Linked DNA regions of Homo sapiens: all the other regions are reported to be linked to region 1. Evidence: microRNA targets listed by miRTarBase, many of them from high-throughput screens and not tested one by one. Region 1 holds a microRNA gene; each other region holds the end of a gene's coding sequence.

Region 1 (5,105 bases):
AAACCTAGGTCATATTACACAATCTAGGGTCTTAACAGTATACAGGATTTCTTCCCTAGCCACTTAATTAAGATCATTTCCTTTGTCAAACAGATAACGTATCACAAAGGTAACACACAACCAGAGGCCTCATGGAGGAGGTGGAGCTTGGGCAGGTGGGGAGGAGGTGACAGGGCCTGTGGGTGGAGGGGAGGCATTGCTGGGGTGCATGTGAGGGGACAGGGCACACGGCGGCTGTGCCAAGGACTAAGTAGTGCCTTCTGCTCTCCACCCAGCTCCCTGGAGATGACCTGCTACGACAGCGATGATGCCAACCCACGCAGCGTGTCCAGCCTCTCCAACCGCTCGTCCCCTCTGTCATGGCGCTATGGCCAGTCCAGTCCGCGGCTGCAGGCTGGTGACGCGCCCTCTGTGGGTGGGAGCTGCCGCTCGGAGGGGACGCCCGCCTGGTACATGCACGGCGAACGGGCCCACTACTCCCACACCATGCCCATGCGCAGCCCCAGCAAGCTCAGCCATATCTCCCGCCTGGAGCTGGTCGAATCCCTGGACTCGGATGAGGTGGACCTCAAGTCCGGCTACATGAGCGACAGTGACCTCATGGGCAAGACCATGACGGAGGATGATGACATCACTACCGGGTAAGCGCAGGGGCTTCTTGGATGGCGGGGGAGGATGGTGGAAAGACCACTGGGATGCGACGCCTTAAAAGTGGAGTGGAACCCAAAACGGGTTTTGGTTTGCTGTGCTGCTATGAAAGTACACAAAAGTGTGCTGTGTACACTTTGTGATTGCCTCTGAAATTCGATGTGGTTTATTCTAGACTTGGGTGTGGTGTAGGCAGGGCCTACATCCAAGGAGCTGATTGGTCAATGAAGGCGCCTCCCTCTCATTGGTCTCTGTGGCTGTCATTCTGTCACCCTCCTCCCTGGCTCTTTGCCCTCAATAAACTGGCTCAAAGAGCCTTGGAAAAGCATTTTATTCCCAGCTCTTATGCGAACTCTGTGTAGACCCTGGACAACTAAATCTGCTTTCCCATTTGCAAAAAAAAAAAAAACCAAAAAGGTTATTAACATCGTATCTGTCTACCTAAGAAGAGAAAATGAGAGCTTGTGGGTGAAATCGCTAGTCAAACAGTGAGTAGCAGCAGTAGCTCCACTTCCTTTGCCAGGGGTTCGTAACCCCTCAGTTCCCTATCCGACCCCTGTGGTCCTCAGTGTCTGCTCCTTGGGTTTCTTCCTGTGCAAACCTTCTACCAATCATGCAACTTCCTAATCCCTACCCAGCGTGTCAAATCCTTCTTTCCTGCCTTTTGCCCTGCAGGGACCCTCATCTTCTTATATTTTTCTGCCTTAATTGACAGAGTTGTGCCTATGCCTTCCAACCTTGGAAGAGTTGGCCAGGACCCCAAGCCCCCAGCACTTCATTCTTGCTGTCCTCTCCTGGTCTGGGAGGATAGAAGAGAGGATAGGAAGAATGAAGTGCTGGGCGCTTAGGGGGATCCTGGCCAACTCTTCCAAGCCCAGAGACAGGAGAGAGGCAGTGGTTCTGGAAGCTTCTCTGGAGCACCTCTTAGCCTACTGCCACTTTCACTCTCCCTTCTTGGTTTGCTGGTGCCCTCCTCCGCCAAGGGGCCATACAAGTAGCAGCAGCATCCCTTCCCTTCCTTCTCAGGGACTTAATATCTTACTGCCAGGGCCTGCCTCTCCCCAATAAAAATCCCAGACTTCAAGGGAGTGGAAAGTAGCCTCTCCTCGGAAAAGACGAGAGCCAAGCTCCAGGCCATCCACTGTTCCCCACCCCCATCTCCACCCCTGCAGAGAACTTGGAGGGATCTGGTTAGGGCTTGTCCAGCTGATGAGGCTGCTCTGGAGCAAAACAACTGACGCATGAATGGAGTTGTTTACTGCCTGTTAAATCCCAGGGGCCAGCCCAACCTCGCGCTCACGCTCAGATCCACCAGCCTGGAGCTGGGACCAGAGAAAAGCCATGCAGTGCACAGATCCTGAGCTCCTTCTGTGGTCAGAGGCCTGTGCTGGGCAGGAAGGAGAGCCAAGGTGTGTGAGGAGCTGCTCCACACAGCCTCTGCCCTAGGAAGCTGCCAGGGACTGCCTGAGGAAGTGTCAGGTCACTGCCCTCCTCTGAGAATCCCAGGAGGGTGCAGAGGGTGGCACAAGCCCTGCGGGGCTGAGTCTTTAGAAAGTCCCCCATGTGTTAGAAGAACCATAGCCCTAGACCCTAGGGAGCTTCCAGACAGGGGAAGTGATAGGACCCCTGCCCAGCACAGCTCCCAGATTGATGGAGGTGACGGGGCCCCTGCCCAGCACAGCTCCCAAACTGATGGAAACGAGATCCCTCTGAGAGCCCTTCACCCCACCAACCCACCTGATGGCCATGGCAGAAAATACCCCAAGTGTTGCAAGGTACAGGAGCCCTGCTTGGAGACGTCGCAGTCTGAGGAAGGTGGCAGGACTTCCGGCTCTTAACTAGCTGTATGAGCTTGAGCAAACTGGTTCACCTCCCCAGGCTTTCTTTCATTTGTCTATCTGTCAAATGCAGATAACAGTAGAACTTATCTCAGGGTTCTGATGAGGATTCAATGGGTTAATATATGTAAAGTACTTAGAATAATTCCTGGCTCATTGTAAATGCTCACTAAATGATAGCTATTATTTTTGTTGCTATATTATTTTTGTTGTTATTAGAGTCCCAGACTGATGGAGAGACATGATTCTTACCGTCAGGGGTGTGTAGTCTGACCAGAGTCCCACTTACTCAGCATCAGCAGCAAAGACAGATCTAGTAGCAGCTGGTCAATCCCAGGGGCATAGATAATAGGCTGTGGGGGCATGGAATGCAGGGGGAAAGGGTAGGAAAGACCCCCTTTATCCCCCCTCTAACACCCTTGCTTTATCCTCCTTCCTCTGGACAGGATGTGTGTTCCCGAATCCATTTTTTAAAAATTAGAGTTCACCGAGACTAGCATGAATAAGAACTTGCCTTCCCTGCACAGCCCCCAGCTGTAAGCCTTGGGAAGCCTGGAGTTTGCATGGGGAACACAGAATCAATTGTTGGCATGGCAATATCCATAAAGTGGACCTTCCTGTAAACTGTGATGCTAGTTTACAAGATCATTTCACATGCATTTTTTATGGTCAACCTTCAGTTAGCAGTAACCCTTAACACGAGTTTGTTAACTTCCCTGCTGGGACTGTAAACATGGCCATCTGAGAAGTCAGAGTTGAAGGGAATCAACTTATAATCCCCAGTAATTTAATGTAAACAGTCACTCCTCGATTATGGGTTTTCATGGTTAAGTGTTGTTGTTGTTTTAATTAGTAACAGGGCAACCTGGATTCCAGCGACTCTTTAAGTGAACATGCAAACCTGAGCTGTCGTTGCTCAGCCTCCTGTTGGTCTTCTCATCCCCACTGTGGTTTCCATCTAGATGTTATAATTTAGAAAATGTCCTATTTCTTAAAAAACTGTTTTTCTAGTCATTAAAGGGGTAGGACTGTTCCCTGTAGGGATAGCTTCAGCGCTTCCCTCCACACTGCGACACCCCTGCCCACCCATCAGCCTCGGCCCACTGCAATTTACTTTCCCACCTCCCAAGAGCTCCCAGCACTGGGCCAGCAGAAAAGCTGATCTTTCCCCACTGGGTGACATAATCGGCTCCAAGCTATCCGAGTGAGCCATAAAAGATGACAGTAATTCTGGCGCTTTCTCCACACTCTGTTTATCTGCGGGGGGATCATCCCTTTGACGGCTCTTCCCAAGCCCCTGTTCAGTCTCAAGTCAGCTCTCCCTACTCCCTCCAGTGACCAGGCCCCTTTCAGGTCATTAGTCAGCAAACCAAAGAAGGCAAATTCTTCAAACTGAAGTCAGCAAACTAGAAGGAAGAAAGTGACTCTGATGCTGCTACCAGAATAATCATACATGTTTTTTAAAAAGGATTTATTTTTAAAAATTGTGGTTATATATATATAACATAAAATTTACCATTTTATGTTAACCATTTTAAAGTGTACAGTTTAGTGGCATTCAGTACATTCACACTGCTGTGTAACCATCATCACGTCCATCTCCAGAATTCTGTCTTCTCCCCAAAGAGAAACTGTACCCATTAAACAGTAGCTACCCTTTCCTCCTCCCTTCAGCTCCTGGGAGCCACCATTCTACTTTTCGTCTCTATGAATTTGACTACTCTAGGTAACCCATATAAGTGGAATCATACAGTCTTTGTTGTTGTTGTTGTTTAATGACTGGCTTATTTACTTAGCATAATGTCATCAGGGAGCATTTATGTTGTAGCGTTAGAATTTCATTCTTTTTTCAGGTTGAACTCTATTCTGTTGTAGGTATACGCCACATTTTGTTTACCCATTCATCTGTTCATGGGTTGTTACCACCTTTTGGCTATTGTGAAGAATGTTGCTCTGAAAATTAGTGTCCAAATATTATTCAAGTCCCTGCTTTCGGTTCTTTTTGGGTATATACCTGGAAATGGAATTGCTGTATCATATGGTAATTCTATGTGTTTTTTGTTTGTTTGTTTGTTTGTTTGTTTTGAGGAACCACCATACCGTTTTCCACAATGGCTGCACCATTTGATATTTCTACCAGCAATGAATGAGGGTTCTAATTTCTCCGAATTCTCCCCAACATTTACTATTTTCTGTTTTGTTTGTATTTATAGTAGCCATCCTGGCCAGGCGCGGTGGCTCACACCTGTAATCCCAGCACTTTGGGAGGCTGGGTTGGGTAGATCACTTGAGGTCAGGAGTTGGAGACCAGTCCGGCCAACTGGTGTGGGGTGAAACCCCATCTCTACCAAAACTACAAAAACTAGCTGGCGTGGTGGTGCGTGCCTGTAATACCAGCTATTCGGGAGGCTGACACAGGAGAATTGCTTTAACCCAGGAGGCGGAGGTTGCAGAGAGTCGAGATTGCACCACTGCACTCCAGCCTGGGCGACAGAGCGAGACTCCAACTCAAAAAAAGAAAAAACCCATCCTGATGGAGGCGAAGTGGTTATCTCATTGTGGTTTTGATTTCTGTAGTGATTAGTAATATGGAGCAGCTTTATGTACTTATTAGCTATT
Region 2 (5,105 bases), not on the chromosome of region 1:
TTGTGTGTGTGTGTAACCACAGTGTTTTAGAGTATACTCTTAAGTGCTTCTCAACATTCAATGTTCATCCACTCTTCTTAACTCAGAGTAAATTTGGGTTACTTTTACCCAGCAGATAACAATCTAAGTAAAGAAGTTTTGAGGTATAAGCAGCAGTATGAATGAGCTTTTCAATATTTTGGAGGTATAATGGCACAGCAGTTTTAATACAACCACCAATCTTCACAAAATAATTTTAATACTTTGTGCCTGGGCTAGCAGCATCTTGCACTGTGACATTCCTATACAGACATAAGCATTTTATCCAAGTACAAATGTTAAAAGCAGAGTAACTTAAGCAATTGTGTATACAAAGGTATACAGACACTGTAGGTTATTTTTCTTCTTGAATCATTTTTGCTGCATAGTAAATTGCAATTACATGTCAGTATAATGTTACTGATCTATAGAATACACTTTGAACTGTGAGGTATGGCAGCTCCCTATGAGAGAGAGCTAACATGTAAACCTGAATATTTTGAGTGATTTTTGTTTTAGCTGCCACAGATGGGAAAGACAAAAAAAAAAAAAAAAATTCCAGCATTCAAAGACCCTAGAGACTTACTTTTCTAATCAATTAAAAAAAAAGGTCTTTCAGTACTTCTCATCTATTTTCTAGCATTCCCTTATCGGAGCACTGTTGAACAAAGAAAGAAAGAAAATACTGAGGTGAAGCTATGTTTGTTATGGGATTATGGATTAAATCAGTTATTTAAAAAAAAAAAAATCCGCCAGGTAACTGCTCATTTACTTTACATCAAGTTGAGATCTTGATACATATATATATATATCTCAACTTTATAATTCAAGATTGCAGTTAAATATTTCTAATTCACTTGAATTACCATATTAATAAGACAATTAGAAACCTTATATTTTCTTAATACAGACATGCTTAACATTTTCTGACATTACTTCTAAACTCAGATGAAGCATAAACTCTCCCCAAAACTGCTCTAAAAGTTAAGTGGTTGAGTTGGTAGCAAAAGCTATCATGGTTTAACATTTCCACCACAGAGTAGATACAAGTAAAGGTCACTGCAGTTTAAACATCTAACAGGTAAGAAATTAACATGAACCAACTAACTGAAATTAGAATACTGCCATTCCATGTTTGAATATTTTCAATACTCAAGTTTCATATTTTCAAAATGGACAGTAATACAGTTTCCCTATGTTTTGATACAATTTCACTATAAATTATGGGCCCAGATTACACTTTTAATGTTGGAATTGGGTGGTCACTCATACATTATTTAAATACTCTAGAAGATAAATCATGATCAGTTAAATTTATCATAGTTAACTATCACAAAACATCAGTGGTAATAAAAGAATCACAGAAATGGAATCAAATAGAATAAAGAATAGGAAGAGCTACCAGAACTACTTAAACATTAGGTGGACAGACATGCAAGAAAAAACAAACCTGTAATGTTCTTATATGAAATAATAAACTTCATGGTTTGTCTACATTAATATTGTACTCAGCCAGGCGCAGTGGCTCACGCCTGTAATCCCAGCACTTTGGGAGGCCGAGGTGGGTGGATCACTTGAGGTCAGGAGTTTGAGACCAGCCTGGCCAACATGGTGAAACCCCATCTCTACTAAAACTACAAAAATTAGCCAGGCATGGTGGCATGTGCCTCTAACCCCAGCTACTTGGGAGGCTGAGGCAGGAAAATCACTTGAACCCAGGAGGTGGAGGTTGCAGTGAGCCAAGATTGTGCCACTGTACTCCAGCCTGGGTGACATTAGAGACTCTGTCTCAAAAAAAAAAAAAAATCTATCTATCTATATATATATATATACACACAGAGTACTCAAGATGATGACAGTCCCTTTTCCCAGTGTTTGTGAGAGACTGTAATATACAGTACTGGGCAGGCACTTCAGTGACAACATAAAAATTACAGTGGATAGAAAATGTGGAAAATTACCAGCTACAAATTATCAATAACAAAATCTGTTCTTTTGGCCAGACTACTAGAGAGGATATATGTATATTTATGAAACAAGTTTTTAAAACCTAAACTTACTATTATGAAGATTCTTTTAAGCAGAGTTTCTGCTAAATGAAGCATCATAGATTATTATTACACTGTAAGAGATCTTTGCTGACCTGCCCAATAGTGATCTATATACAGGAAAGCTGTGTTATCTGGAACTTTTATCAACTGGAATTTTAGAAAACCCAATGCGAATCTTGACTCCACTAGACCACTGTACATCAAAAGACCTAATCACAAAGCAGAATACTGGACGACAACGAGATTAACAATATGCTGTTTTCACAGTGGTAAGATAAGAGAAGGGAAGGGGAGGGAAATCAGAAGAGAAATATCACCTGGGTCAATAGGAATTAACTCTTAATTAACAATTTTAATTAATCTCCACTCTCCCACTATGCTGGGTAAGAAAGCTTTTACTGTATTATCACATCATAGAGAGGAAAGCAAAGCAAGTAACTTGGTGTAATAGGTTACTTTGCATAGTACCTCTTGGTACCAAGGGAACATACAGAAATCATTCCCATTAGTAAAGCACCTCAAGAGAGGATTGAGAAAAGTTAGATACAAAGGAGTTTTGTTTGTGCTACCCTAAAGTCATCAACTATAAAAAGTTAAAAACACTCCTCTCTTCCCTTACATACTTAAAATAGCAAAAATGTTTTCTTAGAACTTTTATACACACAAACTAAAACATAGCCAAAAATCCATAAAGTGACTTTACTAAAGCAAATTATGGGGCAGATCTGGACTAACTGAATGTCAAGAATGGATTAAAATGCTAATTTAAAATACACTAGTCTCCCACAAATCACCTTCCCCAAAGAAAAGCTTCTGTTTGAGCCGGAACAATCTCACAGAATCATTAAGACAACATAAAAAGAAAGAGTAAACATTCTATATTCCAAATAATTTACTAATATTTCTTCCAGCCTCGTACTTTCAGTTTAAACTAATTTATGGTTTAAAAAGAAAGGAAATTACACAAAAATGTTAAGAACTTTTCAGTGTTCTACATACTAATTTAGAGGCCATGAGGATTTAATTATTTTTTTTAAATGATGCAAGGCACTTTTCTTTTTTGGGGCTTCATTTAGAAAAAAATAATGCTACATTGGTTTATTAGATTCTATTTAGAATCATTTTGGACAAAGGAAAAAAGGGCTGGACAACTCTGAAAAGAACAAATACAACGTTTGGCTTTTACTGCCAAAAAATGCAAAAAGGAAAGTCACTCGAAAATCTAACACTATCCTTGTGTTTAAGCACTTGGTACTATAAATCAAAACGTTTTCCTTTTATCATGGAAACTGTAGTTTTTAAAATATAGAAAAATTAGGAAAGTAATAAGAAAGGAAGCAATAATTAGATCAAGTTAAAGTAAGGACAGCTAATTAGGATCATGATTTAAAGATTAATAATGGAAGAAGTATAAAAAATAAAATGGTAATTAAGCTATTAAGTTATACTAAAAAAGAAATGTGGCAGATTCCTGCATTTTGTTAATGTTTCTGTAAGAGGCTCCATCATAAAATTGAACTGTAAAATTATGTTAAAAATGTAATATATAGAACAGAAAAATGAATTTTTAGCAAACCTTAGCAAATTTTGTTATAAATTACCCAAACTTTATAAACAATCCCCCCATACTTGCATTTTGTTTAAAGTAATAACTTTATATCATACAAATAAATTTCAAGTATGAAAAGTGCATTATTGCAATAATACCTCTTTGCAAGTCCAAAATTCTTGGTTTATAATAAAACTTGTAAAGCATGTGTGTGTGCGCGCGCATGTGTTTTTAAAAAAAGGAGTAAAACCATCAGTGTCATCTATTGCAGAAGTCCAACATCTTAAAATGTTGCTCAACAAGTTGCAGAGAAGTATGTCTGGAAGCAACATGTAATTGAAAAAAAAACTACTTATGTTTTTACCATTTTACATTATAATTTTCTCTTGTATTTTCTCCTTCCCAAATAGAAATTCACACTCTATGATGTTGCTCTTCAAGTCAGCCATTCTGTGCAGTCGCCACTTGCATGGTTCCAAAATCATCCTCTTCTTCATGTGTTCTCTTCAAACTGCCTAAAAGTTATTGCATGAAGATTAAAAGGGCACTAAAATAAATTCATGTTAAAAGGTTACAGCAAGTAAAATTTTGTTATTAAGTGATCATGTATACACTATGAAAATTCCACAACTGATATAGCAAAATTTAGTAAATTCCTTTGTGATAAATTACCTAAATATTATAACTTTTTAATCTTCATGACAGGATATATTTTCCTTCTCAAGTATTATGTCTTAGGTATTGCATATAAAATAAATAATTTTTGAAATAGTGTGAAAATAGACCTTTTCAAGAGATAATACATAAATGTTTAGTTATCAAGTTAATTGTTTTTTAGGCACCATAAACATGTGACTTAGGGCATAAAATTTAGGAAATTAATCTTGTATTTGTATAATTTTTTGTAGATAATCTTTTTGCTTTCACAGAGGCTGTTATGAAGAGCAGCTGAAAATATTTTTCCACTCAAGCTATCGAAGTCTAGGTTGGGAGAAAGGAAGGCATGTAGCATATAAAGAGATTTTCTTTTATCTATTCTTCATACCAGCATCTGCTAGTACAGAAATCTCCCACATAGAATCAAAGCTATCTCTGTATCCCCAAAAGTTATAATCAAGAAATTAGACTCTCAATGGAGGAAAACTTTAGGGAACAGTTAAACCAGCAGAGGGTCTGCTGTGTTTTTTGCCTAACAATGGCATGACCTTAAACTTATGCCCTACAGGACTGTTATATCATGGTAATAATAATGTTAATTCAGAGGGCATATTCTAATTGAAGAATGTTTCACTATAAAATTCATAAAGATAAAAATATAGTATCAATACAATTGAATGAGATAAAATATCCTAGCCCTCAGGCTAAACCCAGATACTGTGATTAAGTTTCAGATGAAGTGCTGTGCTTCTATGGGAACTCCAAATGACTAGGGGTTAAAGGAAGAGTGCATTAATCATCATGTCTTCCTGAGGAGATGACATATGAAC
Region 3 (5,105 bases), not on the chromosome of region 1:
GTTCTGCTGTATAGTCTGTCCTCTCCCAATCACTCACTAATGTTCTTTTTGTTCCCATTTCCAGAGGGTTTTCAGGCTGATTTCTGTTGTTCCTTCAAACTTGATAAAGCTGCTCATGAGACACAGTTTGGCCGGAGTGACCAGCATGGCAGTAAAGCAAGCAGCTCTCTGCAACCGCCAGCCAAGGCCCAAGGCAGAGACCGAGCCAAAACCGGTGTGACGGAACCCATGAATCATGACCAGTTTCATCTAGTGCCTAATCACATCGTGGTCTCTGCAGAAGGAAACATTTCTAAAAAAACAGAATGCCTTGGCAGAGCACTGAAATTTGACAAAGTGGGCTTAGTGCAGTACCAGAGCACGTCTGAAGAGAAGGCCAGCCGGAGAGAGCCTCTGAAGGCCAGTCAGTGCTCTCCCGGCCCTGAGGGGCACCGGAAAACCTCATCCAGATCGGATCATGGTACTGAGAGCAAACTGTCAAGCATCCTAGCAGATTCGCACTTGGAGATGACGTGTAACAATTCCTTCCAGGACAAAAGTCTGAGGAATTCTCCAAAGAATGAAGTTTTACACACAGACATCATGAAAGGGTCAGGCGAACCCCAGCCAGATCTCCAGCTGACAAAGAGCTTGGAAACCACATTTAAGAACATCTTGGAACTCAAAAAGGCGGGACGGCAGCCCCAGAGTGACCCCACGGTTAGCGGCTCTGTTGAGTTAGATTTCCCCAACTTTTCTCCTATGGCTTCACAGGAAAACTGCCTGGAAAAGTTCATCCCGGACCACAGTGAAGGTGTTGTAGAAACTGACTCCATTTTAGAAGCAGCTGTAAATAGTATCCTAGAGTGTTAATAGCAGCAGTCCTCCCCCTACCCCGCCCCGAGACCCCACCCCGAGACCCCACCCCGGACCAGTTACATTCGTTCCTGGCAAAAGCAAATGGAAATGGTCTCCTGTCTCCAGCCTGCTTGATCTTTCATCACAGGTTATTCTTTCTAATCTCAATCCTGTTCTTTGTTTAAGAGCAATACTTGTCGTGATTACAGGGAGATCCTTTAGTAAAATTAATCCTTGGCAGAAAGCAGTCTGATAGGCCCCACTCATTTCAAGTGTTATGAAAGTGCTTATAGGCATTTTGTTTATTTGTTTTGTTTTTTAAAAACACTGTAACTCAATGAGACCACAGTATACTTGGCCCTTGGTAAAATTTTGACAATCATAAGTCATTTGAAAAGAACAGACTTACTAAAATCAAACGAGACGGATAGAAGCTACTTTTTAAAGAATATCCCACTGCATCTGCAAATTTAGTTTTGGGTTTTTTTATTATTATTATTTTGAGTTTTTTTGTGTGTGTTTTGTTGTTATTGTTGAGGGGAAGACCACATGGTTCTTCCCCCTCAGCCATCTTTGAGCAGTAAATTGCTGGCTGTGCTGCCAGGGACCCGCAGCCCTGGTGGAAAAGCCAGTAGCACATACGCAGGGCATTGCAGGGCTTCCCTATTGATGGTTCAAGTGCTTTTCTGATGCTTCCGGAGCAAAACCTCATGCTTTTAGGCATATCTATGTTGAATTTCACCTAGGGAATGTTCTGTTCTTAGTTACAGCAGCAAAATTTGAAATAATTTCACCAGGCTAAATAAAGGAAAATGGAAACCAGTTAAGAGGCACAGTGTACAGAGGAGGCCGGGATAGAGCCATGAGGGTTATAATATTAATATGTATATATGTAAAAGCATATATATGTTAACTATTGAGAAAAAACAAGTTTTGCATTTTATAATTGGATATAGTCAACATATAATGTATGTTTTTGTTTGTTGCTGGATTTTGTTTCATTTAACCTCTCTTTGCACCCTCTCCCACAACAAATACCAAGCATCAAAAGCACTTTCATTTGAAAATTATTATGTTGTAATTTTTCAGTTTAAACTTTAAGGAGACTCTGGCCTTGTTTATGCTTCTTGTCTGAGAACAGTAGTGACCCCTGGCAGCAATTCATTACCAAAACACAGACAAACCAAAGGTAACCAGCTAGCCCACCACTGAAAGGAAAGATCTGAGACATGGGATTCCCATTTGAGAGCCAAAGGATATGCCCTGTCATGGTTTCTGTTTGGCCTGTGTTCATATTAGTGAGCATGGCTTACTGCTTTATTTATTTTTATTTCTTGTCAGGGAGTATTCTCCGTTTTCCTTTCTCGTATACCTGCCCCAGGTTATCCCATTTCTGTTGTTACCTTTATTCTTAATGTCATTGTAACCATCACTTATCTCCTCTCATTGGGAAAGCTACATGATAGTATTTTTATGCACTCTTCTCCCACACATACACACACGTGCATGTATCTGAGCTGCTCGGATCCAGAGGTCATTTTTGTTACAGTGTGTGCACACTCACTCTCCTTCTTAGTGTGCATACTCTCTCATTTATTCTGTTTATCTCCCTGGCTCTGGAGGTGCAGCCACTGGTCTTCACTTTAATGTGTTGCCAGAATCTGCTTCTGGCTGTCGCCAACATGGGGATGACCCCCATTGTCATCATGTTGGGCATTTCTTTTCCAGATTGGCCTGTGATGGAAAGGAAGGCTTCTAATTAGAAAACACAGCAACAGAAGACCTATACCCCGGTGCCCCTGTGTCCCACTACACACAGAAAACCCTGTGAGATGGCCAGTCTTCATAATAGCAACGTACCTTCACCCCAGCCACATGCCCCAGCCAATACAAATTGGAAAATCTGGCCCATTTTAGGGTTACCATTTTTTCCTTATTTGTGCCAATGTCCAAGTTGCAGATTTCCCCTTTTTCCTGTATTGTAACATATTAGATAAGTTGGTGTCGCCAGTTGGTACTTTCTGTTTGGGTAGTCCTAGGGTAACACCCTGCCCTAAACTCCATGATTTCATAGGCTTTTCTTCCCTTGGGGCTCATGCTCCCCTAATTCCTAGCAAGATGATCCTTCCTAATCAAATTCTTCTCATTGCAGAACTTTATCCCTGGAAGCCTTCATGTGGGCTGCTAGTGAGTTACATTAATTACTGCAAATCAGTGGAATTCTCAAGAGACAAGATAAGCTTCATGTACATTTGTCACCTCTCTTTCTTCCCTATCCTGCCCTGCTGTCCCAATCCTAGCTTTTCTATATACCATCCTAAAGGGTTTTTAAGCCCTAACACTTGTCTAGCAAATGGAGAGCCTAATTTACCAAAATGAAACTTGTAAATTTTTGTGTCATTGTATGTAAGTTTACTTTTTATGGAGGAAGGATTCTAGATAATGACAAATGAAGATTATGACATGTATTTCACTCCTGTGATTAGGTTCTACGCACATGGGTCATAACTCGCATGTCGAGCCCCCTCTAGTGAAGGGTAGGAGAGCTCAGCCTCGGATGGCCAACATTCAGTTGTTCAGGTTCATTCGTCAAAGTTAAGTTTTAGAACTATTTGTACTCAGTAACAAAAATCATTTTCTTTTTTTTTTTTTTTTTCTGTTGTGGAAAAGCGTGAATTTGTTATTAAGCATTTGATTTTCTGTGTCCTTAAGTACTTCCTGAAGATGAAGCAAAATTTTAATCTGGCAATTATGAAAAAGAAATATTTTAGCTCTGAAGGATTTAGTAGATTCTGTTAGATTAGGGAGGCCTTACAGACTGACTTTACTTAAAGAGGACGCGTCACTCGCTGTCAGTGTGGTGTGGGCTTTATTTGCTTAAATACCTTCATTTGTATAGTACGTCTCACTTGAAATTGCTTTGTATACATTTTGTAAAAATATTTATAAAATGTTTTGTAAAAAAAAAAAAACTATAACAAATTGCAGTTTATTTTGTTATGTTGGATAAATACTGTTAAAAGAAACCAGTCAGTAACTATATTGTTAATCCATGGTTAGGAAATGTTTAGTTGGAGATTACAAATTGAAACAACCATTGCAATACAGCCAAAGATTTGGGAAAATGTGCAACTGTGATTGTCTTGATTTTGCAAATAGGAATGGCTACTTTTCCCAGAAGAAAAGGGTAAGTGTTCAATGGGAATTCTATTTTAATAGATTTACCAATACCAAAATCAATTTACCCCAGTCAGGGAAGGGATAGGATTTTAATTGATTGGCCTTTCCAAACAGTTACAAATTAATGAAGCTGGTCAGTGAGGAGGTTTGGTCCTGTACACCTTTGGCCTCCATCCCTACTCCTGCCACATAGGTCCTTAGCTATGGAAGGAAAAGTGGGGGTCATGTGAAAAGTCAGGTAAGTGAGCCTCACTCTGCAGGAGATTTTATTTTATTTTATTTTATTTTGAGGTGGAGTCTTGCTCTGTCCCCCAGGCTAGAGTGCAGTGGCACACAATCTCCGCTGACTGCAAGCTCCACCTCCCAGGTTCACGCCATTCTCCTGCCTCAGCCTCCCTAGCAGCTGGGACCACAGGCGCCCGCCACTGCGCCTAGCTAATTTTTTGTATTTTTAGTAGAGACGATGGTCTCGATCTCCTGACCTTGTGATCCACCTGCCTCGGCCTCCCAAAGTGCTGGGATTACAGGCGTGAGCCACTGTGCCCGGCCTAGGAGATTTTCTTCAGTTATGTTTATTTTGTTTCTGCAAGGACAAGGAAAAAGCTAAGTGATAAATGATTTTACATAAGAGATATTCCAGAATTAACGTTTCTCTTTGGATTCAACATATTGGACCAAATTTTGTATTAAAAAATAACTCTATAACCTTATGTGTAAAATCAGCCCCATGAGGCCCTTTTGAATTCCTGCCCTCACAAGTGTTTTTCCACCCAAATTGTTAGGGAAGCTTCTAGAGGTGAAATGTATTTCTGGGAACAAATTGTTCTTTAGGGCCTAGAATTTACACTTGTACTCATTTATGGTTTAATTAGATTCTCCCCTGTGCCCTAAGAGCAGTAGAAAATCAAGATTCAGCAGTAATCAGTACATAAATAGAAAGTCATTTTCTAAAAAGATTAAAAGGCAACAAAGAAAGTCATTTTCAAATAACTAACAGAATGATATGAAGGGATCTATCCACTGATGTCATGTATAGTGTTACCCTAATGTCAAGTTTCTCTTCTTGCTAAGGATAAATGTGTGTCCAG
Region 4 (5,105 bases), not on the chromosome of region 1:
TGCAGCCACCACCCTGTTCTACTGTCTGTTGAACACTACATAGAACTTGTGAGATTCCTGCCCAAAGTAAGTTCAGTTATAGACCAAGTGTAAATTTGCAAACAGTTGTATTCTTTTGGATAATTTGTTTGAAATTGTATTTATTCTGTAAAAAAGGCTCAACAGCCATTTACTAGTCATTCCATAGTCAGTCAGTGCTGCAGTGGAGAGCCCTGGAGATTACAGGAGACCCAGCTCTCATACAGGTTCTGTCACTACCTAGCATTGCATCCTTGGGCACATCCTTTTTGTTTCCTTAGATGCAAACAGAAAGGGTTAGGTGAGGTGACCTCTCCCTGTCCCCATACACCAAAGAGCAGGCCTGCAGCAGAGGGAATACTGGGAGAGCTCCTTGTCCCCATACCTCCCACAGGAGTTTGACATCATGGGGGGCTGCTGTGCCCTGCACGGTCACTCCATGGACTGAGCTTTGCCTCTGACTGTCCTGTACCTGTGCCTCTCTCCCCACTGCAGGTGGAACACTACAACCACCACACAGCCACCTGGCACCCTGCAGCTGGCATGCTCAACAAGCGCTGCCGGCACGGAGCCGCCTCCCTGGGGAGCAAGATGTTTGTCTGCGGGGGCTACGATGGCTCTGGCTTCCTCAGCATTGCCGAGATGTACAGCTCTGTGGCAGACCAGTGGTGCCTGATTGTCCCCATGCACACGCGCAGGAGCCGGGTCTCCCTGGTGGCCAGCTGTGGGCGCCTCTACGCTGTTGGGGGCTACGACGGACAGTCAAACCTAAGCTCAGTGGAGATGTATGACCCAGAGACAGACTGCTGGACATTCATGGCCCCCATGGCGTGCCATGAGGGAGGGGTCGGTGTGGGCTGCATCCCTCTCCTCACCATCTAAGGCAGAGGATGGGATGTGGTGGGGCAGGGATCTGGTACAGACATAGGCGCTTCCTTCCAGGAACAGTCCCTCAGGAGAGGCAGTGGACCAGAAGAGATGGCGAAACGTGAGCTCGCCGGAGGTACAGTTTTTCCAGGTGCTTAAGCCCTCCCCCACTGTGCCACCCTTGTGACCTTCAGGCTTGGGTCATCAAGATGCACAGCATGGAACACAAGCTCCTCTGGATCCTGCAGCTGGTGACATGGAACTGTTTTCTGGTCCACATGAACACAGGCTCCATCCAGGCCCAGCTCCTACCCACCGCCTCTCTGTGGGCCAGCTGTTCACAGAAGGCCTTCCATCTGATGCTCCCCATCGCCTGCTTGCTCTCCAGCCGAGTCTGGCCAATTTGCCATGGGGAGGCTGCAGTGTCCAAGCCTGCTGGAAACTGGGATGTAGCTGGGGACGAAAGGACAGACCCAAGCGTTCTCCCTGCCTGAGATGGTGTGGCCACAGCAGTGGAAGGCTGCACACAGGCACATTCCTTCTTCCACAGTGGGGCACCAAGGATTCTGTCCTCATTGCTGGGTAAGCAGGGAGAAGAGAAGTTTTCCCCATGTCTAATTTTGGGATTTCAGTGAGGCCTTTTGATCTGTCCAGGAGAACAGAAGGGAAAAAAAGATACTTGAAAGAAACTGAAGGAAATTTAAACAAAGAAACACTTGAAAGAAACTGGAAAGAAAAATAATTTTTTTATGTGAACAAATTTTGCAAGAAGAAAAAAGCATAAAAGACACTAACGGCAAATCTATGTTTAAATGGAAAATCGTCTAACTGGAGAAGGGCGGTATCCACCCCACATTCGGATCCCAGGGTCCTGAGGCCTCGCATTGAGCTGGGGGTTCCCTCTGAGCCCCAGTGTGTGTGGAATCAGTGCACTCTTGACTGGGCCTGTAGTAAGGTGCTCATGGGGTTTGTCTTCTCACCCACCATCAGAGGACTTTTAAAATCATAGGCGTAGAGAGTTAGGCTATCTGCTGAATTACTGCCACTCTTCTTGGTGGGGGCTCCTAGCTGTGGCTGGGGGCTCCAGGCGCCCCTGTGATTACCTCCTACTGCCACCATGGCGCTCATTCAGATTCCCCACTCTCACTAACATTGCTTCCTTTTTTGACCAGCAGGAAACAGCAGGTCTGGCCAGATTCTCACTTGCCCATCAATCTCGTTCTTGGATGATTTCCCTCATTGTGATGCTTCTGGGGCACGTTGACCATATGCACCTCTAGAACCTAACCAGGGCTTCCTTCTACCAGCTGTGGGCGGGCTTGGTCTGGTAACCTTGTCTGCTCTGCCATTCCACTGCTCCTCCATCCACTCGCCAATCCCAAGAGTCTGGCCTCCCTCCAGCCCTGGGCAGACTGACCAGCAAGGTGGACCTTTACATTCAAGCACAGCTGGCTTTTATGACATAAAGAACTAAAGGCCGAAAGAATCTCTTGCTGCTGCAAAGAACAGATTTTATATTTCTTCCTCTAATCTTGGCAAATGACCTTTACCTTTTGGAAAGATTTCATATTGCTTCCTCCTCCCTGGATAGGACCTAATGTAGCACAGCGGGACTCAAAGAGGAGGACATTTTCTCTTGCCAGTGCACTGGGCAGTGGGGCTGTCCTTCAACTGCTGCTGCCAAAATTGGTTTTCTAAAATTCTTCCAGTAGAGACTAAAAGAAGATTCAATTCCTGTAACCCAAGACTGAGTCTTAGGGCTCCAGTCTCCACCTGCTTGGTTTCCTATCCTTTGCTGCCTGCCTGGGGTGGCCTGGAAGCCTGTTCAGAAAGGCACAATGTGGAGCCTGGGGTGTCTCCCCCACCCCAGGACCGTCAGGTTTACCAGTGTGTGCAATCGCCATGTATTCAGAGGGAAGTACCTTTGTTACCTACAACTTAGGAGCTAGGCCTCTGCTACAAGCACTTGAAAATGATATTTTTATTTTTAACGTCTCAACAATCTGATATCGGATGTCGTTTAACCTGGGCTCGTGGTAGGGCTCCAGCATTTCTCCCTCCTTCCTGGTTTGCCTGTAGGGGTAGACTCGGAAGGTGGGTGGGGTGTGCATTTCCTGTTAGGAGTGTATCAGTGCTTGTCTTATTATAAGCCCCTTTCTTTTGTGAATTTGAAGTAGCACCAACAAGCCTGGATTGTGAAGGTATTAAGAATCGGTCTGTGGGCTACTGAGTGGGTCCTTAGGATACTGGCCCAGATTTTGCCACTGGGTATGGCAGATCATTTTCTACCATGGCCTGCTGCTCTTGTAGTGGACTTCCTGAGTCCAATCCCACCTCCTGGTGTAGAATTTACACTGCTGCACCTGAGGTCGATGTTTCAAAGTAAGATCAAGCCAGTGTTTTGATCTGGGCTCTGAGCACAAGTCAGGAAACACCAACATATTCACACTCTCCCAGTAGGTTCCTCAGTCCGATGGTGAATGGCTATTCGTAAATGGCTGGTCTGGCTCTTTGGTGTTGGAGCCTTTCCAATAGCCCCATGAAAAGAAGCATCACCCAAGGATATTGTAAAAAGGATGTAACAAGGAGATAGGGTAGACATTGTACTCAGTGGGCCTTGGGGCCTAGCCCAGCTCTGAGCAGAGGACTGTGGCATTCACTGTCCTTGAGTGTTTCACCTTCTTGGATAACACACGGGCCTTCTCTTCTGGATTTCATCAGAGATTACAGCCAGATGGGGGCTGAAGACCATCCTCTTGACCACAGAGGTGTGACTGTGGGAATTCCTCCCAATTTATGGTTTCCCAGAAAATCTTAGTTCCTTTTATTTATAGAATGCATGTCTTTTGTGTTAAGAAACCAAAGAGAAATAAAGAGAACACTCCTAATAGCTCTTGTCCTTTCTTGGTTTATTTCTCAGATATTAGAAGTACATGTTTGTTTTTTAATTGTGATTCACTGAAAAAAATATATTGGACAAAATGGGAATATTTCTGTGAATATAAGGGAAAAGCCAGATGTACAGCAAAAGTAGTCTTTGGAGAGATTTATTTTATGAGAGTCACTTCTGGTGAAAAATATGCAAAGACTTCATTTGCACTTTGGGACTGCATATTGGTGCCTGTCCTGATCGCCCCTACTCTCGGATTTCCCCTTTTCTCCATTCACTGCCCTAAAACTCCAGAGTTTCCCAGTGGAATGTGGCTGCCTGTTGACTGCCTGGAATCAGCATCTCCAGCTCCTTTTTTATGCTCTAGGCGAGAGGTGCTTTAACTTTGGTGCACATAAAAGTCACTGGAAAATGTTTAAACCACAGATCCGTTCCTAAGTCCCTCTCTAGAGACAGGTTCCCTAGGGCTGGGGTGCAGCTCAGCATTCTGGCGTGAGCAAGTTTCCTTGGTGATTTGCATGCTCTTCAGTGTGAGAACTATACTCCCATCTTCAGTTTCACTTCCCCAAATACAGCCGCATTCCAGATCTGCTCTTCCAAGATTACACTGTGGTTAGTGTGGTTTTGCCTGTTGGGAAACTCTTCAGTCACACTTTTCCAAAAGTCAGCTTGTGATCAATCTTGTCCATTGGACTCCTGGATGGCAACTTAATTTTTTTAAGTTTTTGGAAGGCATATCACTCCCACACACACCCCACCAGGACATGTCTTACATATAAACACTCTTATCAGTTGAATCTCACATGGTCCTCAGTAATCCCCACGGAGCAGGTAACATTTTAGCATAAGGAAACTGCCTCAGAATGGCCAAGTAATTGACCTGACTCCAGCTAACCAGTGGCATTGTGAGAAATTGAGACCAGATCTCCACACTCACAGTCCAGTCTGCCTAAGGACAGCAGTGTCTTCCACCTGTGAAGGGAGCAGCATTCCTCCCAACAGTCATAGACCTTGGAAAAGCAGACTGGGCAGCAAGGGGAAGAGTGAAGAAGCAGGTGCCTTCATGCTGAAAGAGATAGCCAGACTATCTGGGAACTCTGCCCTCTGGGAGAAAGGCCTGTTGCTTGTAAAGTAGTAGCAGCCCTTTCCATGTAATCTATGCCCCCTTGACCAGAGCCAAAGAGCCCCATAGGTGAAGAGTGGACTGCTAAGTCAAACTGGATTCATCTGCTTGACTTTCCATTTCTTTTTTCTTTCTTTCTTTGTTTTTGTTATTTGGACTCCTTTCCCCCTCATGACCAACAGCAGAGCCCACTCCATTTCACCCCAA
Region 5 (5,105 bases), not on the chromosome of region 1:
GCCTCAGCCTCCCGAGTTGCTGGGGCTAAAGGTGTGCACCACCATGCCTAGCTAATTCTTACGTTTTGTAGAGATGAGGACTCGCTACATTGCCCAGGCTGGTCTCAAACTCCTGAGGTTAAGTGATCCTCCAGCCTCAGCCTCCCAAAGTGCTGGGATTACAGGCATGAGCCACCACACCTGGCCAGTGATGCATTTTTAAAAAGCCATCCAATAGAAGGAGAAGGAAATACATATCTTAATTACTTTCTTGAAAGGGGCGGCCACACTGGCGGAAGAGGAATATTGAAGGCAAACAGTACCTCAGCAACATGGGGACTCGAGGCTCCTACCTGCTGCCCGGCATGGCGTCCTTCGTCACTTCCAACAAACCGGACCTCCAGGTCACCATCAAAGAGGAGAGCAATCCGGTGCCTTACAACAGCTCCTGGCCCCCTTTTCAAGACCTCCCCCTTTCTTCCTCCATGACCCCAGCATCCAGCAGCAGTCGGCCAGACCGGGAGACCCGGGCCAGCGTCATCAAGAAAACATCGGATATCACCCAGGCCCGCGTCAAGAGCTGTTAAGCCTCTGACTCTCCGCGGTGGTTGTTGGGGCTTCTTGGCTTTGTTTTGTTGTTTGTTTGTATTTTATTTTTTTCTCTCTGACACCTATTTTAGACAAATCTAAGGGAAAAAGCCTTGACAATAGAACATTGATTGCTGTGTCCAACTCCAGTACTGGAGCTTCTCTTTAACTCAGGACTCCAGCCCATTGGTAGACGTGTGTTTCTAGAGCCTGCTGGATCTCCCAGGGCTACTCACTCAAGTTCAAGGACCAACAAGGGCAGTGGAGGTGCTGCATTGCCTGCGGTCAAGGCCAGCAAGGTGGAGTGGATGCCTCAGAACGGACGAGATAATGTGAACTAGCTGGAATTTTTTATTCTTGTGAATATGTACATAGGCAGCACTAGCGACATTGCAGTCTGCTTCTGCACCTTATCTTAAAGCACTTACAGATAGGCCTTCTTGTGATCTTGCTCTATCTCACAGCACACTCAGCACCCCCTTCTCTGCCCATTCCCCAGCCTCTCTTCCTATCCCATCCCATCCCATCCCATCCCATCCCATCCCATCCCGCTCTTTTCCTACTTTTCCTTCCCTCAAAGCTTCCATTCCACATCCGGAGGAGAAGAAGGAAATGAATTTCTCTACAGATGTCCCATTTTCAGACTGCTTTAAAAAAAATCCTTCTAATCTGCTATGCTTGAATGCCACGCGGTACAAAGGAAAAAGTATCATGGAAATATTATGCAAATTCCCAGATTTGAAGACAAAAATACTCTAATTCTAACCAGAGCAAGCTTTTTTATTTTTTATACAGGGGAATATTTTATTCAAGGTAAAATTCTAAATAAAATATAATTGTTTTTTATCTTTTCTACAGCAAATTTATAATTTTAAGATTCCTTTTCTTGTTTATCAGCAGTTGTTATTACATCCTTGTGGCACATTTTTTTTTTTAATTTTGTAAAGGTGAAAAAAGCTTTTATGAGCTCATGTAGCAATCAGATTTTCCTGTGGATTGATAATAAATGAATATGATATATAGTTAAATTTTTAAGGGGCATCACTCCTGGCTTTGTCTGTGTCTGCTTTAAAAGAGCATAATCACGGAATAGGACTGACAAAGGATTGTTTCTTTTTGGGGACCAAAATGTTTTCCCTTGTTGACCACAAGAAACCGTGGAGGTTCTTACTGTGAGGCTTCAGTTGACTTCTTCTCTTGAGTGCTCGCCTGAGCAGGGGCCCGTGCTGAGCGTTTTGCATGACTTCCCGTCTTCATTCATCACACTTGTGCTGTAGAATAGGCATTCATCTCCATTTCATGTGGAGGAAATGAAGACTGAATGTGAAGATGCCTTTACTTGGCTCATAGTGGCACTAAGAGGCAAGGGCACAAGTTGGGCACAAGTTGAGCCCAATTCTCTGTGCTATGAAGGGGGTCTTTTTTCTTGTAAGCATATCCGTTATCTCAAATGTCTGTCTTCCTCTGTGTTGGGAGCATTCCCTGTGGAGGGGGAGTATTTTAGCCACGCCACTGGTTTCCTTCTCTGCTGTGAGCAAGGTTCACCCCACTCTGTGTCTTTCCTGTTTTCATCCTTAGGCTTACACGTACGACAAACGTCTTGTGTTTATGTCACTTAGAGGGGTGCATGGATAAGACATTTTCCACAACAGGAAATATGTATTGGGCTCTAACACCATGTCCGTCACTCGTCTTTCTAGGACCCGAGGCCTTACACATAGACCGTGCCCTCAAAACTTGGGGTCTGTCTTGTGGAATAAAAGGGGTGACTTCAAGAACACCAGTCTTTATCAGCCACTTGGTGTTTGAAGGTATAGTCTTGGCCTGGAGAAAGCCACAGCACCAGCCTCCCCTGCATCCCCAGTATCTTACTCTGTAAAATCAGAATATGAAAACTTTGCTACCCGCCTACTACCTCTGGGGGGTTGTGGAGGAGATTGCTAAGTTAATATTTGAAGAGGTTCCTTTAATGAAAGGACAAAAGGCTATTTTTATGCCTATCTCCATGTGTGGCTGCAGATATAATTAGCGGTCATAAAGTTATCCAGCCCTGAATGGAAATCAACTGGAGCATTTTCCTGGCGGATGCGTTGTAGTTGAAATGCCACACACAGAGGCGGGGCTGCTTCTGGAAGGAGCACTTTCGTTGACTGTCTCAGTTTCTCAGTGGAAGGGGAGTTATCAGGAAGAAACAGATGCTCCCTGGCTCCTTGGCACCCGACTTTTCAGTTAAGACCTGCTCTTCCCCCAGGTCCTGAATGGAGAAGTTCAGTTCTTTGAGACTTACATCTAAAATGTTTTACTGAGTCATCCTATTTTAAATAAATTAACAAAACAGCAACGGAAGGTTGCCCTGAGTCACGTGGCCTGGTTATCAAAGGGTTTAAGGTAGCTCAGGTCTCCTCCCCCTTCCTTCTTCCCAACACAGACTCAGGGCTTCTTCCTGCATCTCGGTCCCGAATGCCATTCCTGCTGCCCTCCCCTTGCTTCTGTAGCGTAACTAGACTTCCCAAGGCCCATCAAGTGGAAGAAAATTCAGGACTTGGAAATGCACCATTTAAGTTCCAGAGATGATACTCCATTGCCAATAAGGCCATGAAAAACAGAATCATGTTTAAAATCCTTCTGAGAAAGCCTGTATTGTTTCTAAGTGATACTTGCCAGCAACGCAGGAAAACAAGCTAGTCTCAGGATGCCTGGGGTTGACATGGGGAAGGAAAACAAAGGCATTGGGGCAGCTCCTGGACCCAAGCCTCAGACCTTGTCGTCACTTAGAGGAAGTGCCAGGGACGCATGCTTCTGGTTGGTATTTGTGTGAGCTGATAGGCTTTGATGATGGGCTTGGGTGTGTGTGTGCACGTATGCGTTTAATAGCAAGTTCAAGTTCAGTGTAACTGCCTTTGGAACAATAGTTTCCATTCTCTGCAGCCAGTACCTGGGTCACTCCCTTGATAATGGGCTCACTGTACAGCTGTGAACTGTGAATTCAGGGACATGTATTTCTGCCCAGCCTTGAGGTTGCAAGCACCCAGCACATCCACACACCTCGATGAAAGGGGCTTCTGGAATGCCATTTGCACATCTAAATAAATCCACCCTCAACCGTACTGTTTTGTCCGTGTTTTGATGAACCACTGCCAAAGGTGGTATTTAGTCTATTTCAAAGGATTTGTAAAAAAGAAATACACATGGCTATGGAATACAAATTCTTTGGACATCAAAACCCTAAAACAATACCCTTTCCCCACCCAAATCCCAAGTGTACCGTACTATCATGTAACCACTACTGAGACAGAGATTTTAGAAGTGAAGGAGATGAGTGATTTGATTTCAGGAGTCTGAGTTTTCAAACTTGTGCTTTTGGAAGTGCTTTGCATGTGAATGGAAAGATGGTAAGCCCCAGCTGGCCTCCTGCCCCTAATTCAGAGAGATGGAACATGAGACGTTCCTTCTGCTTGAGGCCACTCTGTAACCTGCGTTCATTAGGCTTTAAAGGCCCCCTGCTATTGTAGTTTTGGACAAATAAGCCCAGATAAAAGGTTAAAAAAAAAAGAACCCCCACTATTCTGCCAGATTTCTCCTGATAAAAGACAAAAGCTAGGGAAAGGTTTACACACAGGTAGCCAAGATGAGTTCATTGGCATTCAGGGGTCAAACAGCTAATGTCTGAGTGCCAGTTTGGTTTGGAGGCACAAACTGGTTTTTACATGGTGCCGTTCAGCCGCCTACCTCACCCTGAAACTCCATCCCACAGTACAATGACGTGCCTGGGGCCAGAGTTATCAGAGCAGGTGGGACGTGACTCTGACCTCCCTCTGTCCCCAGGCTGCAGTGGACCCCTCCCAAGGGCAGTTGGGTGACACCATCAGCTTCTTGAGGCTGCTTCTCACTCATTTGCACCCCAGCATGTGAATCAAGGTTGGGTACTACTAGGCTGTCATCCCTGGGATCTCCTCCTCCCCAGAGCCCCACCATCCCGGTGTCAAAAGAACAGGGCTGGGACTGTTGGCTTCACCCCCTTAGGAATGTGTCCAACCACAGGCCTGGAGAGGAGAGCCCGGCCGTGCGAAGCTTCAGGTCAGGAGATGCAGGAAGCTGGCAGGAGTCAGGGGGAGATGCTTTTTCGTGAGGCTGTCTGGCCTCTGGGTCCCCACTGGCCCCATGGGACACTGGTACCACCCCCATTCCCTGTCTGGGCTTGGGCATCACTGGTCCTGCTGTGCAGACAAATGAGGGTTTTGTAGAGGTTTGCTTCTGTGGCCACACGAACAACAGGTGCAGAGGCACTGTGTCTCTGCTTCCGAAAATAGTGCCTGGAAGGAAGGAAGTGGTCAGGCCTAATAGCTGGTTTTAGCAAAAATGTTAAGTCTATCCAAGAACCCGGGTTGTGCCGTGGAAGGATCAAGATGTAGCACATTTCAGAGTTCACATAGTCTGAAAACAGCCTGCTCTGGAGTCTGACCAAGTTTCTTCAGAAGAAAAGCAGTGTGTGTGCTTCTGTTCCTGTAAGCACACTGCCCTTTGGAGGTTTGGTCAGT

The links. The annotated mature microRNA hsa-miR-5191 reads AGGAUAGGAAGAAUGAAGUGCU and lies in region 1 at 1,465-1,486, shown strand. An mRNA with a match to its seed (bases 2 to 7 or 8) in the 3' UTR can be bound and repressed. Matches are read on the target gene's strand: a 7mer-m8 pairs with bases 2 to 8, a 7mer-A1 pairs with bases 2 to 7 and ends in A, and an 8mer does both.
Region 2: miRTarBase lists STYX as a target of hsa-miR-5191. Seed matches in the 3' UTR shown: 7mer-A1 at 1,956-1,962.
Region 3: the mRNA of BICRAL is a reported target of hsa-miR-5191. Seed matches in the 3' UTR shown: 7mer-m8 at 3,109-3,115.
Region 4: the mRNA of KLHL18 is a reported target of hsa-miR-5191. Seed matches in the 3' UTR shown: 7mer-m8 at 2,670-2,676.
Region 5: the mRNA of IRF2 is a reported target of hsa-miR-5191. Seed matches in the 3' UTR shown: 7mer-m8 at 1,075-1,081.

The regions. Positions count from the first base shown.
Region 1 is chr1:201,718,115-201,723,219 of GRCh38, forward strand. MIR5191 (microRNA 5191) reads left to right here and starts at 1,394; the gene lies at 1,394-1,513. NAV1 (neuron navigator 1) reads left to right here. Exons shown (of 34, transcript NM_001389617.1): 7 at 276-641. The region is part of intron 2 of IPO9-AS1 (IPO9 antisense RNA 1); the gene reads right to left. It overlaps LOC124904483 (a long non-coding RNA gene), which reads right to left. Exons shown (of 2, transcript XR_007066790.1): 2 at 3,941-5,105. RefSeq lists an enhancer at 1,510-2,156.
Region 2 is chr14:52,770,061-52,775,165 of GRCh38, reverse strand. It overlaps STYX (serine/threonine/tyrosine interacting protein), which reads right to left. Exons shown (of 11, transcript NM_145251.4): 11 at 177-4,133. The coding sequence ends at 4,060. Among named protein-coding and RNA genes, the nearest start is that of GNPNAT1, 19 kb to the left of the region's middle.
Region 3 is chr6:42,864,595-42,869,699 of GRCh38, forward strand. BICRAL (BICRA like chromatin remodeling complex associated protein) reads left to right here. Exons shown (of 13, transcript NM_001393499.1): 13 at 65-3,962. The coding sequence ends at 852. Among named protein-coding and RNA genes, the nearest start is that of RPL7L1, 12 kb to the right of the region's middle.
Region 4 is chr3:47,343,042-47,348,146 of GRCh38, forward strand. It overlaps KLHL18 (kelch like family member 18), which reads left to right. Exons shown (of 10, transcript NM_025010.5): 10 at 514-3,775. The coding sequence ends at 900. Among named protein-coding and RNA genes, the nearest start is that of PTPN23, 35 kb to the right of the region's middle.
Region 5 is chr4:184,384,219-184,389,323 of GRCh38, reverse strand. It overlaps IRF2 (interferon regulatory factor 2), which reads left to right. Exons shown (of 9, transcript NM_002199.4): 9 at 258-1,595. The coding sequence ends at 566. Among named protein-coding and RNA genes, the nearest start is that of LINC02362, 4.5 kb to the right of the region's middle. RefSeq lists enhancers at 1-187, 2,193-2,951, 4,470-5,105, 5,047-5,105.